Regions from separate parts of the Homo sapiens genome. Here region 2 is linked to region 1. Evidence: fine-mapped expression QTL. Tissue or cell type: whole blood. Region 1 holds a variant in brackets; the other region holds the start of a gene. All regions are shown on one strand. Distances are from middle to middle.

Region 1 (6,864 bases):
AATAAAATAGGGGCCTTCTGAGGTGATTCAAGCAAAACAAGTGCTTCTTCTTTAAAAGGCTGAGGATTCCAGGTGGCTAGTAGGCAGTGTAGTTGGAGAACTAGAGGATAGGTTAGAAGAGGCTCCAGGGCTGGGTGTGATTGAAAGAGGGTGGGCAGAGCCATGCCAGGTCTGACTGGTTTCATGTGCTAATGAGTCACAGTCACCAATCAGTCTTCATCCAGGAAAAGCTGCCTCTTTAAATCCCCTGGAGGGGACCAGGTGGAGCCAGGAGAACCTGACCTGGAGATGGGCCCTGCTCCAACCCACTGTGACCTTGGCAATGTCACTCGCCCTCATTTAAAAATGGGAGCGTGGGATCATATGGTTCCTCCAGCTTGAGACCAGAGTCCTCTGAACTGCTGTCCCTGGATGCCTGCCCCTTGAATGGGGGTCAGGCTGTGCATACATTGTGAACTATGGAACCATTTATGCCAGATACTGCAGTTAGAAGCTGAGGCTTATGTTCATGAGTCACAGGCATATATGTTCTGTCCCAAGACACAGAACCCCTTTAAGCCTCTACCATTTATCCACCCGTGTCCCCAGTCTCTGCCCAGTCCTGAGTCCTACCTCTTTTGTCTCCTCCCTGACTGGTTCATGTTTTAATCATTCATTCAGTGAACACCTTTAGCACCTACTGTATACTAGGCCCTATATTGGGTACCAAGCCCTATTCCTGAACCCAGTCTGGGGTGAAGTTTCTAAGTGGAGAGGGAGAAAGAAAAGGCAGGCAGGGGTCCCAGAGACTGTGCCATTCCATGCGGTCAGGTCTGTCCAGGAATATGACATTCAGCTACCACCCTAAAGACAGCTCTCCAGGCCGGGTGCAGTGGCTCACACCTGTAATCCCAGTACTTTGGGAGGCCGAAGCAGGCAAATCACTTGAGTCCAGGAGTTCTAGACGAACCTGGGCAACATGGGGAAACTCCATCTCTACAAAAATACAAAAAAATGAGCAATTAGCTGGGCCTGGTGGCACGCACCTGTATTCCCAGCTACTCGGGAGGCTGAGGTGGGCAGATTGCTTGAGCCCAGGCTGCAGTGAGCCAAGATCGCGCCACTGCACTCTAGCCTGGGTGACAGAGCGAGGCCCTGTCTCAAAACACAAAAGAGACAGCTCTCCAGCTCTGGAGATAGGAAGGCCCTATTCCACTATGTGTGGATCCCTCTGCAGCTGCCACCCACTTTCTGGATTTTCTCCAGATTTCCTAGAGTGAGGAAGGAGGGGAGTTTCTGTGCAGGAGTGCCCTGTCACGTCTCAGCTTCAGTCTTTTGAAATTAAATTTGTGATTCCTCACCCCTTACATCTCCCCCTGGCCTGGCTCACAGGAGTGCCCTCCCTTCCCTGTCCAGGTAAAACATCTTCAGCCACTCTGGCCACCTTATACTCAAGTACATTTGGGTGCATGGGGCCCTCTGAGGAGGCAAATGACCTCTGGAGTGGAAGGGCCAGTGTGATCAGGACAAGTGGAGGCGGCACTGGCTGACCCGCTGAGGACTGAAACCACAGCAGAAAGCTGCACTGGGACGGGGAGAAGGTTTGGGGTGTGTTGGAGGGAGGCCCCTGGCAGACTCAGACAGTAGCTGAGTGATCTGGGCTTCAGGATTCAGGTTTACCTGACAGCGACAGGTAACCTGTTCTCTGCACCTCCAAGCACCTCCTGCCCCTCACTATGGCTCTCTGTACTTGCTATGAACTGGGAGAGGCAGTTCTGGAATCTAACCCATGCTCCAGGGAGGTAAGGCGAGCTCTCCGGGCCACTGACAGAGCAAGCCAGGCCCTCACTTCTGCTGGAGTGAGGCGCTCCCGCCATCCCCGGCCTGTCCTGGAGAGTGATGCCTCCCTCTGGGGTGCTGGCCTTTGCCTTCAGTCCTTGGGGAGGCCACATCTTACCCACATTTTTCTTTGACCTGAAGACTGTTCATGTCCATAATTAAGGGGGTGATGAAGGCAGGGAAAGGCAAAGTGGAACAGGGATCCCAGAGCGTCCCAAAGCTGTTACAACCTCTGAACAAAAGAAGAAGAAAGTTATCTCTGAGCTAGGGTGAGGAGAATTGGTCAAAGGTTAAAGGCAGAGATGAATTAAGGTGAGTGTGTAGCAGTGGGTGTGGAGAGAATGAGACTGATTTACAGTCTTTTGAGGGCAAAAAGTTAGAATCTTTTCTGTCTTCAAAGCCTGATCCCAGGGCTCAGCCTGAGTATCTCTCTCTCTCTCTCTCCACCTCCCTCTCCACCCCCCACCCCATACTCCTTTCTCTCCTTCTCCATTTGCCAAGCTTCTCAGGACCTGGCATTTACTTCTGCCAAGCTGTAGGTCTTCCTCCCCACTCCAGGAATTTCACAAATAAATCCCTGAGAACAGAGCCTGCCTCACAACAAACAGCACATGGGTTTCTGCTCAGCCTCTGTGGCCTTGGACCAGCTTCTGGGAAAGAGCCCCTGCCTGGCTACAGGCGCAAACACAGCCCTGCCTTTCACAAACATTCAGTGGTGAGAAGCAGTAGGGAGGAACCCCAAGCCCCCAGGTGAAGGAGCTGCGCCCAGGCACGCACGGTAAGATCAGGCTGTGCCGGGGCCACGGCTGCCCCCGGCTGAGCTGGGATCCAAGGCACAAGGCTTCTCCCTCAGGGGACTAGCCACTCAACTCAGCGACGTTGATAAAGTTATTTTAGCCTCCCTAGACTTCCCTTTCCCTGTTTTTACATAGATCAGAGGTTTATGCTGCTTAATTCACAAAGAAACTACAAAGAAAAAAACTGATTTGTTTTGAAGCATTCTGTCTTCCTGAGAGGAACGCAGGTTCTAGCAAACTCCTTGAACAGACACGGATACATATGGACACACATTCATGATGTATTGACCTGTCCACACACTCACACTGCCCCATTCATGGGTTCAGCTGCAGCTCTCCAGGTATAGGGACATTGGTGCACTGCAGTGTCCCCTGCTGTGTGGTGCTTGGAGCAAAGCTAATGCTCAATAAATATCCACCGAATGAGTGTACTTGACAGTATGTGTGGGCATCCTCTCCTTATGCCAGTCACTGTGCTCGGGGTTGGGGGACAGCCCTGCCCGCTAGTTGCTCACAGTCCAGGAGGGAGACTTGCACGTACACTCACACAGCCAATGTAGAGTATTAATGGGCACCAGGACAGAAAAGAAAGGGGAGGTCAGAGCAGCTCAGAGTGGGGAGATCCCGGCTCTGTCCCATGGTTTGGGGGTTTGGGGGACACCTGGGGAGGATGTCAAGGGGAAATACCTCAGAGCACTGAAGGAAGAGGGAGATGAGGTGGCTGCAGATGTCTTCCAGCAGAGGGAAAGCATGTTCCAAAGCCCTGAAGTGACACAGTAGAGTCAGGAGACCAGGAACTGCTTCTGGTGGCTGGACCGTAAAGAAGGAGGCAGCATAGTGAGACCCCATCTCTATAATCAAATAAAAATAGCCAGGCATAGTGGCACATGCTTCCCACTAGTCCCAGCTATCCAGGAGGCTGAGGCGGGAAGATCATTTGAGCCCAGGAGTTCAAGGCTGCAGTGAGCTAGGATCGTCCCCCTGCACGCCAGCCTGGGTGACAGAGCAAGACTTTGCCTCTAAAAATAGTGGGAAGGGCT[AG/A]GCGGTGAGTTGTGGGGCCGCAGGCTGGGTGAGGAGTGCTGAGTCTGCAGACGGTGCGTGCCTACTTTCAACAATCGCTATCCTTCCCTCCAGCATTCCTCTTAGACTCTTAAAATGTGCAGCTTGAGTATCTTTTATCCTAAATGCTTGGGACCAGAAGTGTTGTGGATTTCACATTTTTTCAGAATTTGGAATATCTGCATTATGCTTACAGTTGATTATTCCTAATTCAAAAATCAGAAATCCAAAATGTTCCAATGATATTTCCTTTGAGAGTTATGTTGGTGCTCAGAATGTTTTAGATTTTGGAGCATTTCAGATTTGAAATTTTTGGATTCAGGATACTCAACCTGTCATAGTTTTACTTTTCTCTCTGCTGATTGAGAAACTATATATGCATAGAAGAGCTTACAGCCCTCTCCCAGCAACTCAGAGACAACCCACTTCTGACGTCAGTCTTCACACTGGGGTGCATCAGTTGGAAAGCATTACTTAGGTGACCATAAAATTTATTATGTAACTGGTTCACTTTAGGGAGTGAAAGGGGTTATTACCAATAATTAAACCCTGGGGAAAAAAACAAGAACCAGGACTATTCTGGGCAAACCAGGATATATGATCACTCTAGGTAAAGATATTGGGTTGAGGCCGGGCACAGTTGGCTCATGCCTGTAATCCCAGCACTTTCGGAGGCTGAGGCAGGAGGATCACTTGAGCCCAGGTGTTCAAGAACAGCCTGGGCAACATGGTAAAACCCCATCTCCACAAAAAAATACAAAGATTAGCCGAGTGTAGTGGTGTGCGCCTATAGTCCCAGCTACTGGAGAAGCTGAGGCAGGAGAATTGCTTGACCCCAGGAGGTTAAGGCCGCAGTGAGCCATGATCATGCCACTGCATTCTAGCCTGGGCAACAGAGAAAGACCCTATCTCAAAAAAATAAAATAAAATGAAAAGATTTGGGGTTTCCATGAAAGGATTGTATAGAGGTAAGTGGTGTCATCAGATTCACATTATTGGAATTGAGCTACCCCCTCTCACCCTAACTTCTTCATAGAACAGTGAGTGTAAGAGGACAGGATGGTTTGGATGGTCTCTTGAGGCTCTTCCCAGCTTCAGCCTCTTCTATAAATCTCTGTTTGGTAGGCATTTGAACGGCGAAAAGGGTTGAATAAAATGTAACCTCAAGGAAGTTTTGGGGGCAAACTGCAATTTAACCTAAACCGTGAAGATGCATACCAATATCCTGTGTTTTTAGCTGAAACCCTATAAAAGTGCCCAAGAAAAACATTCCCAAGGAACCTCTGCTCATCCACCCAACCAGGAAGGGAAAGGCGATGCCCGTGAAAACATTCCATTGAAATTAAAGCCCTGCTGCCAGTCAGCCTCTCCCACAAGTCCTAGCCCTCCCTTCATCTCTTCCTCCCTCCTCCCTTTCCTCCTCCTGACTCCAAGAGCAAGCAGGTAGGAGATTGGGTCGGTAAACGCATGTGAGCATTCAGTAGTTTAGTTAGTGCCATCATTTCAACTCCTGCAGCAACCCCCTCCCTCTTAAGTAAAAACCTCATGGCTGTCTAGTGCCTTGAGAATTAAGCACAAACTCTTCAACCTCTATTTCAAGATCTTTTGCTTTATCTCCATTTTATTCCTTATGCACCCTTTCTTACAACTTAATTGGAATTCTTGCTAAACAAACTTTACATATTCTCTCTAGGTGCTTACTCAGGTTCTATCTACTCCTGACTTATCTAAATTGTACCAATAAATTTCATCTCTTCCATAAAATGTGGCTTTCCTCCTTTCAGTCTTCTTTTCTTCCAAGTTACTCAAACACTTGTCTTTCAAGATACTGCACTTCTAAATAAAGGTATAATTAATAGTGCTGGTATTTGTCTCTGAATCGTCTTGCTAAGGAACTGAACACTGGTGTGGTTTAAAATACAGCCTTGTAAAGGGCGTCTGCATTAAGTTCAGCATCAATATAGTGAACTTCTGGGAGAGGGGGACCACCAGGTCGCCCTAGGAGAGGTGAATCTGCCCAGATTGGAAATGGAGAGATCAAAACGTTCATGCTGATCAGTAGCGAGATTGTTCCTGTGAATAGCCACTGCACTCCAGCCTGGGCAACATAGCAAACCCCATCCCTTAAAAAAAATTAAGACCTTCTCTTCAAAAGACACTGCCTTGAGAATAAAAAACTTTGGAGAAAAAGAAAATAAATGGAGAAAATATTAGCAAATCACAAATCTGATAAGGGAATTGTATCCGGATTATATGAAGAACTTGCAAACTCAATAATAAAAAAAGCAAACCAATTAAAAAATGGACAAAAGATTTCAACAGACCCTTCATCCCAAAATAATATGATGGCAAATAAGCACATGAAAAGATGTATACCATTGGTCATTTGGAAAATGCAATTGAAATCATAATGAGATACGAACCCACCACACACACACACCAGACTGTTTAAAACTGAAAAGACTAACCATGCCAAGCATTGGCAAAGATGTGAAGTAACTAGAATTCTCACATACCGCCGGTTGGAATATAAAATGGTACAAACTATTTCAAGAAATGATTTCTGAAGAAGTTAAACATATGCCTAACATGTGATCCAGCCGTTTCATTCATAGGTATTTACCCAAGAGAACTGAAAGCATATGTCGATACAAAAGACTTGTACATAAAATATTCAAGGCAGCTTTATTTGTAACAGTCAAAAACTGGAACAATGCAAATGTCTATCAATAAGTGAATGGATAAACAAAGTGTGATATTATCCATCCGATGGATTACTATGTAGGAATACAATGAAATAAACTACAGATAAATGCAACAACATGGATGGATCTCAAAATAATTATGCTCAGTAAAAAAGGCCAGAAAAAGAAGAATATGTCCTCTATGACTCCGTTCTTTTACAATTCTCCAAAATGCAAACTAATCTACAATGACATAAGGCAAATTAGCTGTTGCCTAGAGACTGGGGGAGGGAAGATAGGGTGCCAGAGAGGCAGAAAGGATCCTAAAGGGATGTGAGGAAACTTTTGAGGGAAGGGATATATCCACTGTTTTGATTGTGGTGAGGGTTTTACAGTTGTACACATAGGCCAAACTTATCACTTGCATACTTTATGTGCAGTTTATTTCATGCCAATCACACCTCAATAAAATTTAATATTAAAAAATAGATGTAGTATGTCATCTA
Region 2 (6,864 bases), 27 kb before region 1:
TCCAAGCACTCCCAAAGTGGCAATAAACGAGTTGCTGATTAACTATTTGACCCACGAGGCTGCTTTAGCCCCTTCAGTGAGACCCTAACTTGACCATATTCCATTCCCCATGCACCTTCAGGGCACCAAATAAGAGTGGGGAACAGAATCAGATGAAAAAGTCTCTTAGAATGGGCAGGGAGTGGCATAACCCAGTAGTTAATGAGGGCCGACCAGCAGACAGCAGTCAATGTCATGGCAGAGCCTGGCAGAGCCTAGCAGAGCAGGCACTGGTTCTGAAAGATTTGGGGGGAACCTGGAAAGGGTTAACATGCTTCCCCGGGAAGGGTTTAGTTCCTCAGAAGAATCTGGGTCAGTGTATTTGGGAAGTTTTTAAAAAGTCAGACGCTCAGTAGAAGCATTTTAAGAAGCTTGCAAAGCTTATTGGGGCCATGGCAGAAAGGAGGGTAACTTCATAGGCTCATCACCTTTCACCAAGAGGATTTTCACCACACAGGAAAACCCTACGTTTTCCAAAAGCAACAGACAATTTTCTGTCATCACCACTTTTCCATCTGTTTAAAATAAGAAAGAAAATTCCTTCCCCTTTGGCCCAGGTTGCAGGTCAACAAAGGAGGCATTGTTCATCATTTCTTCAGAACATGACAGGGCACAGCTCACTCTGCAGTGTAAGAAAACATTTTTTAAAAAAAATCTCAGAGTAGCCTTAGGGGCAACAGTGAGTAAACCAAAGCCTTCGATGAGGGAAATGTTTGGTTGCAGACTGGAGGACTATCCTGGAAGGTGGAAATGAGGCTTAGGTTAATACGGTCAGAGCCATGATTCCTTAGTTAGACTCAGGAATTAAATCTGAGTTCCTGAGTTCCTGGTTGGGGGTTGGGAACACTGCATTAAAGGGTAGGCAGGTTTGAGTTGAACTCAGTTCCCAAGAGCGTGCGGTCAATGTCCAGAGGAGCTGGATGTAGACAGATGCCTCTGGGAGTCAGTCTGCACCTGCCTCCTAGGAACCTTCTTCACTGGCTTGAACTGCCTAACTGCCCTTTCTGCCTCCAAGCCCTGCAATCCACTCTCCCACTTTTGCCAGAGCCATCTTTCTAAAGGGAAACCCTGATGCCTCTTCTTTGCTCAAGAATGTTTCATGGCTCTCCACTGTCTAAAGATAAGGTCCAAAGTCCTTCAGCAAGATGTTTAAGGAGCTTGTGACATGGCCTCAAGCTGCCTCTTCCAGTCCCTCACATTCCCTAGGCTCCAGACCATGTTCCCTGAATAAAGTCTTCAAGTTCCAGGATCTTGGCCTTTAATACCATGGGTACCTGCATCCTCTCCAGCCCACGACTAAGCACATTCCCAATGCCCCAATCCTACCTATTTTTCAAGGTACACAGGCCAATCCCTCCAGGAAGTTTTCCAAGGTACCCCAACTTAAAAGTAACTTAATTCTCCTGAAACTCCATAGCATTTTACCTCTATCCAGACATACGTCTCTCTTGAACCTACGACTTCCCAGAGGAATTTACTGGGCCATCCGTAGATGTCAGCTGTACACGTTTATATGTATCTCTAGACTGTTAGCTTCCAGAGAGCAATAACGGTCTTACTCACTGCTGTAAACCCAGGTAGACCAGCAATACTGTTATCCATACAAGTATGGTTTCATATTTTGTTTCTGTCCTCCTGATCTCTCAAGCCACCACCTAACTCAGAAAAGAAAGGAAAAATAAAGGAATGTCCAGTCATCAATCAGAAAATCAGCGTCTGTCTGCCCCCGCAGTTTACTGTCAACTTCTAGCAGGCCGCCACTGTATCTCTCACCGTGGAAATCCCAGGGTTTAACACAGTGTCTGACACTGCGCGTGTGTTCCACAATGAAAGAGAGAGGGGGGCTTGCCCAAGGTCACCCAGAGTCAGGAACCACTGAATCTCATCCGGGACGAGATCTGGCGAAATCATTGACAACGTTATCTCAGTGGGGAGCTGGGAGGCCGGAAGGAATGAAGTGTCTGAGAACCGTGCGCCAGGCCTCCGGGACGCGGGAAGGGCTGAGGGGGCGGGAGGCCACATCAAACAAGACGCTGGGCTCCCGGGCTGCCCGGAGCCGCGAGCCGAGCTCCCAGGCGGCGGGAAGGGCGGAGGGGGGGTGGGGGCACGGGGGCCGGCGACCCGGGCAGGCGGGAGGGAGGCGGAGGAGGCGGCCGGCCGGCCCAGGCAGTGCGCGCCGCCCGCCCGGCTCGGCAAATCCCCCAGGGAGGCCGCCGCCAGAGCCCTGGCGCTCCCGGCCCGGCGCCCGCCACGTGGCACCCGGCGGCGGCGGCGGCGACTCCTCCCGGCGCGCGGCCCGGCCAGCAGGCAGCACGCAGCCGCCCGCGCCGCCCGCCTCCTCCCGGGCGCCCGCCGGCGGCCTCCCGGGCGTAGTGAGGGGGAGCGGCCCGGCCGCCCGGGACCCGGGGAAGGGGCGGGCGGCGCGAAGCCGCTTTAACCGCAGTCGCCGAGCGGAGGCAGGAGGCTGACCCGGCCGCTTCCTAAGTGCGGTCAGGCATCCCGTGACCGCGGCGGGCGCCCAGGGCCCCGCGGGGAGAGGGCGGGGGCGAGGAGCAAACTTGGAGGCCCCCACCTCGCCCCCGGGCTGTTGCGAATGCGGCTTTCGGCCGAGTGAAAACCCCAAGCCCGAAAGTGAGGGTGGGGAGGCGGGGGTTGGAAGAATTCCCCACTCTCCACCCCGGGTGTGCGCTCCCCGCCGGGAAGAGCTGACCTTGGCCTGGGGAGGCGGGGGTGGGGAGAGAGGGTAAGCGCCGGGGCTCGGCTCCCAGCCCGCCGCCCCCTCGGATTCCTGGCCCGGCGGGGCCGGAGGAGGGGGCCCCGGACACACACACACACACACCCCCCACACGCAGCGCGCGCCAATGAGCCCGGGCCAGGCGCAGGGGGCGGGGTTTTCCCAGGCTCGAGCACAGCAGCTGCTATTTACCTTCTTGGCTTCTCCCGGGGACCAGGAACCGGCCCCCGCTCTCCGCCGCCCGTCGCCGCCCCCCGCCTCCCTGCCCCCGGGGCGCGCGCACACACACTCACTCACACACGCACGCACACACACATCCTCCCGGCCCGGCCGCAGCCGCGGCGGCAATAAAACATCCTGGCACGTGCTCCGGCTCCAGGCGCGCCCACGCCGGCCGGCTGATGTCAAACTGCAGCTCGGCTGGTGTAGCTCTTAAAGGGCCCGCGGGCGCCGGGGGCCGAGGCCGCCCGCGGGGCGAGGAGGGAGAGGCTGCTTCCTTGCCCGCCACCTCAACGCGCCGCAGAACCTAAAGCCTACGGATGAAAAGGGAAAGGGTGGTGAAGGAGGGCGCGAGTCCCTGAGTCATTGCCCTCGGAGCCCCCCTTGTTCATTTTTTCATTTGAAATACCGTTTCCTTCCACCCAGTTGGAAATTATTCTGATTGTTTCCTGGGGAAGCCCGGGGTCTAAGGCCCCAAATCCAAACGAGGAATTTCTGAAAGACGGGGTGGGGGTGGGATTCAAGAACTACCTTGCTCCGAAAAACCTGCATTTGTGAGGTAGAAGGCAATTTTTCCTTTTTCTGCATGGAAACAGGAAAATTTTTTTGGCCCTTTTCCTTTACCATCTACTTTCACCCTCCTGAATGTAAAGTCTGAGCGGGAACTTTAGATGTGTCGGTAACTCACATTCTTACACCCGTCCCCCCCTCCCCCCGCCCCCTTTTAACCACTGCTGTTTTTTTCTTTATTGTTTATACCTTTAAAAAAAATATGTTTCAAATGAACTTACTACAGTCAAAGCAGCTCTGTTACATATGAGAGAGGGCATAAAGAGCAAAGACCCTGGCTCCAAAAGAAATAGACAAGATCAAGACCAAAGCGGAAAGAAAAAAAAAATCTCTAAACCAAAGCCCAGAGGGAGAGTAGCAAAGGGTTAAAATCCTTTTGATTGACGTTGTAGCCTCCGGTGCCCTGGGCTCAGGCGCGCGCCATTGGCCGCCAGACCTTGTGCCTGGCGGCCAATGGGGGGGCGCGGTCCACGAGCGGTGCCGCGTGTCTCCTCCTCCCATTGGCTGAAAGTTACTGTGGGAAAGAAAGTTTGGGAAGTTTCACACGAGCCGTTCGCGTGCAGTCCCAGATATATATAGAGGCCGCCAGGGCCTAGGGATCACACAGGATCCGGAGCTGGTGCTGATAACAGCGGAATCCCCCGTCTACCTCTCTCCTTGGTCCTGGAACAGCGCTACTGATCACCAAGTAGCCACAAAATATAATAAACCCTCAGCACTTGCTCAGTAGTTTTGTGAAAGTCTCAAGTAAAAGAGACACAAACAAAAAATTCTTTTTCGTGAAGAACTCCAAAAATAAAATTCTCTAGAGATAAAAAAAAAAAAAAAAGGAAAATGCCAGCTGATATAATGGAGAAAAATTCCTCGTCCCCGGTGGCTGCTACCCCAGCCAGTGTCAACACGACACCGGATAAACCAAAGACAGCATCTGAGCACAGAAAGGTAAGGGCGGTACCTGTATCTCTTTGCAGCCCCTCAAAATTAAGTAGGGGTTGGGGGGCTTCTTTCTGTCTTGAAACCCCGGGATGGCAGATTCCATGGGAACACAGAACTCTTTTTTTTATTTGCAGTCATCAAAGCCTATTATGGAGAAAAGACGAAGAGCAAGAATAAATGAAAGTCTGAGCCAGCTGAAAACACTGATTTTGGATGCTCTGAAGAAAGATGTAAGTGGGGAAATGCTGCTCGCTCTTTTAATTAAAAAACAAACACTTTCTCAGCTACTAAGAGTGAAACCCCCCGCCCTGCGGGGTCTGGCACTCGCTGGTACTGCGTTCTCCCAGGCGGGAGGGCCCGGCCTTATTCGCTGGGGTCCAGAGATAATGCTTGCGCTCCGTGGCCGGGAGGAGGGACCCCCAGCACTCTGAAGCAGCTGACACGGGGCTCACTTTCCTTTCTTGCCTACTCTATGCAGAGCTCGCGGCATTCCAAGCTGGAGAAGGCGGACATTCTGGAAATGACAGTGAAGCACCTCCGGAACCTGCAGCGGGCGCAGATGACGGGTGAGGGCGGCTCGCCGCGTCCCCCTGTGCGGGCGTCCCGCTCGCCTCGCGGTGATTTCTTCCAGACTTCCGCCCGTGGTTGTGAGAGGCATTCAGCTACATTTTACTGCCTTGGCTCACTCTTGCGTTCCCACGGTCTGGGGCTTATTTATAGCCACAACTCCAAGTTGTTACTGTTCCGGAAAGGGAGGGAAAGAGGTTGCAGCCGCGAGGGTGGCGGGCGCCGGGTAGGGGCGAAAGGACTTAGGACTGTGGCGGTTTGGAACTGCGTGGAGCCTGGGGGTCACTGGTTTAGCACTCCTTCCCGTTGCAGAAGGGGAAATGAGGCTTGGATGATGGATTGGGAGGCATTGTCCAAGGTCACATCGCGCGCGGGGGTGGGGGTGACAGATCTGGGGCTGAGATAGGTTTAAATGCAGCTACAGGGAATCGGGAAGGAGTGGCTCGGCTTTTGGCAGCAACGCTAGTGTGGAGAGGTGGCTGGTTTTTTCTAAACCCATCTCACCCTCCCTGCCGGAGGCAGTTTCACGGGCGCATGGTCAGGGAGGCGCGCCACAGGGACCTCCCAGGGCGGAGGCAGTGGCCACGGGGCCAGGGCCGTTCGGTGACCCGTCTGTCTCTTTCTGGCCCGCAGCTGCGCTGAGCACAGACCCAAGTGTGCTGGGGAAGTACCGAGCCGGCTTCAGCGAGTGCATGAACGAGGTGACCCGCTTCCTGTCCACGTGCGAGGGCGTTAATACCGAGGTGCGCACTCGGCTGCTCGGCCACCTGGCCAACTGCATGACCCAGATCAATGCCATGACCTACCCCGGGCAGCCGCACCCCGCCTTGCAGGCGCCGCCACCGCCCCCACCGGGACCCGGCGGCCCCCAGCACGCGCCGTTCGCGCCGCCGCCGCCACTCGTGCCCATCCCCGGGGGCGCGGCGCCCCCTCCCGGCGGCGCCCCCTGCAAGCTGGGCAGCCAGGCTGGAGAGGCGGCTAAGGTGTTTGGAGGCTTCCAGGTGGTACCGGCTCCCGATGGCCAGTTTGCTTTCCTCATTCCCAACGGGGCCTTCGCGCACAGCGGCCCTGTCATCCCCGTCTACACCAGCAACAGCGGCACCTCCGTGGGCCCCAACGCAGTGTCACCTTCCAGCGGCCCCTCGCTTACGGCGGACTCCATGTGGAGGCCGTGGCGGAACTGAGGGGGCTCAGGCCACCCCTCCTCCTAAACTCCCCAACCCACCTCTCTTCCCTCCGGACTCTAAACAGGAACTTGAATACTGGGAGAGAAGAGGACTTTTTTGATTAAGTGGTTACTTTGTGTTTTTTTAATTTCTAAGAAGTTACTTTTTGTAGAGAGAGCTGTATTAAGTGACTGACCATGCACTATATTTGTATATATTTTATATGTTCATATTGGATTGCGCCTTTGTATTATAAAAGCTCAGATGACATTTCGTTTTTTACACGAGATTTCTTTTTTATGTGATGCCAAAGATGTTTGAAAATGCTCTTAAAATATCTTCCTTTGGGGAAGTTTATTTGAGAAAATATAATAAAAGAAAAAAGTAAAGGCTTTTATGTCTTCGAACTGATTCTTCCAGAATATGTAAAAAGGCTTTTGGTGGAATTTGAATTACATGTAATTGGTAATTCAGGAATTGACTCTTTTGTTATTAAAAGAACATTTGTAAAAATCCATCAAACTTTTCACCAATCCTCCATGAACTAAAAAGACTAAATTCCATTTACTTTACAAGCAGCCATCTGGTAAGGCTTCCCTGATAAACTTGTGGTCAGTCTCTTAAAGGATTTCC

Evidence for each region. PIP is the estimated chance that this variant, and not a neighbour inherited with it, causes the effect.
Region 2: HES1 starts here. The variant in region 1 is fine-mapped to the expression of HES1 in whole blood (INTERVAL, PIP above 0.99).

Annotation. Positions count from the first base shown.
Region 1 is chr3:194,158,846-194,165,709 of GRCh38, forward strand. LOC107986172 (a long non-coding RNA gene) reads right to left here and starts at 3,440. Exons shown (of 3, transcript XR_001741081.2): 1 at 3,303-3,440; 2 at 1,937-2,050; 3 at 950-975. RefSeq lists an enhancer at 2,139-3,070. The variant AG/A (reference allele first, on the strand shown) is at 3,656.
Region 2 is chr3:194,131,985-194,138,848 of GRCh38, forward strand. HES1 (hes family bHLH transcription factor 1) reads left to right here and starts at 4,164. Exons shown (of 4, transcript NM_005524.4): 1 at 4,164-4,504; 2 at 4,633-4,728; 3 at 4,977-5,064; 4 at 5,699-6,748. The coding sequence starts at 4,397. The coding sequence ends at 6,249. RefSeq lists silencers at 2,242-2,521, 2,592-3,131, 5,858-6,057 and enhancers at 4,122-5,321, 4,131-4,290, 6,088-6,277.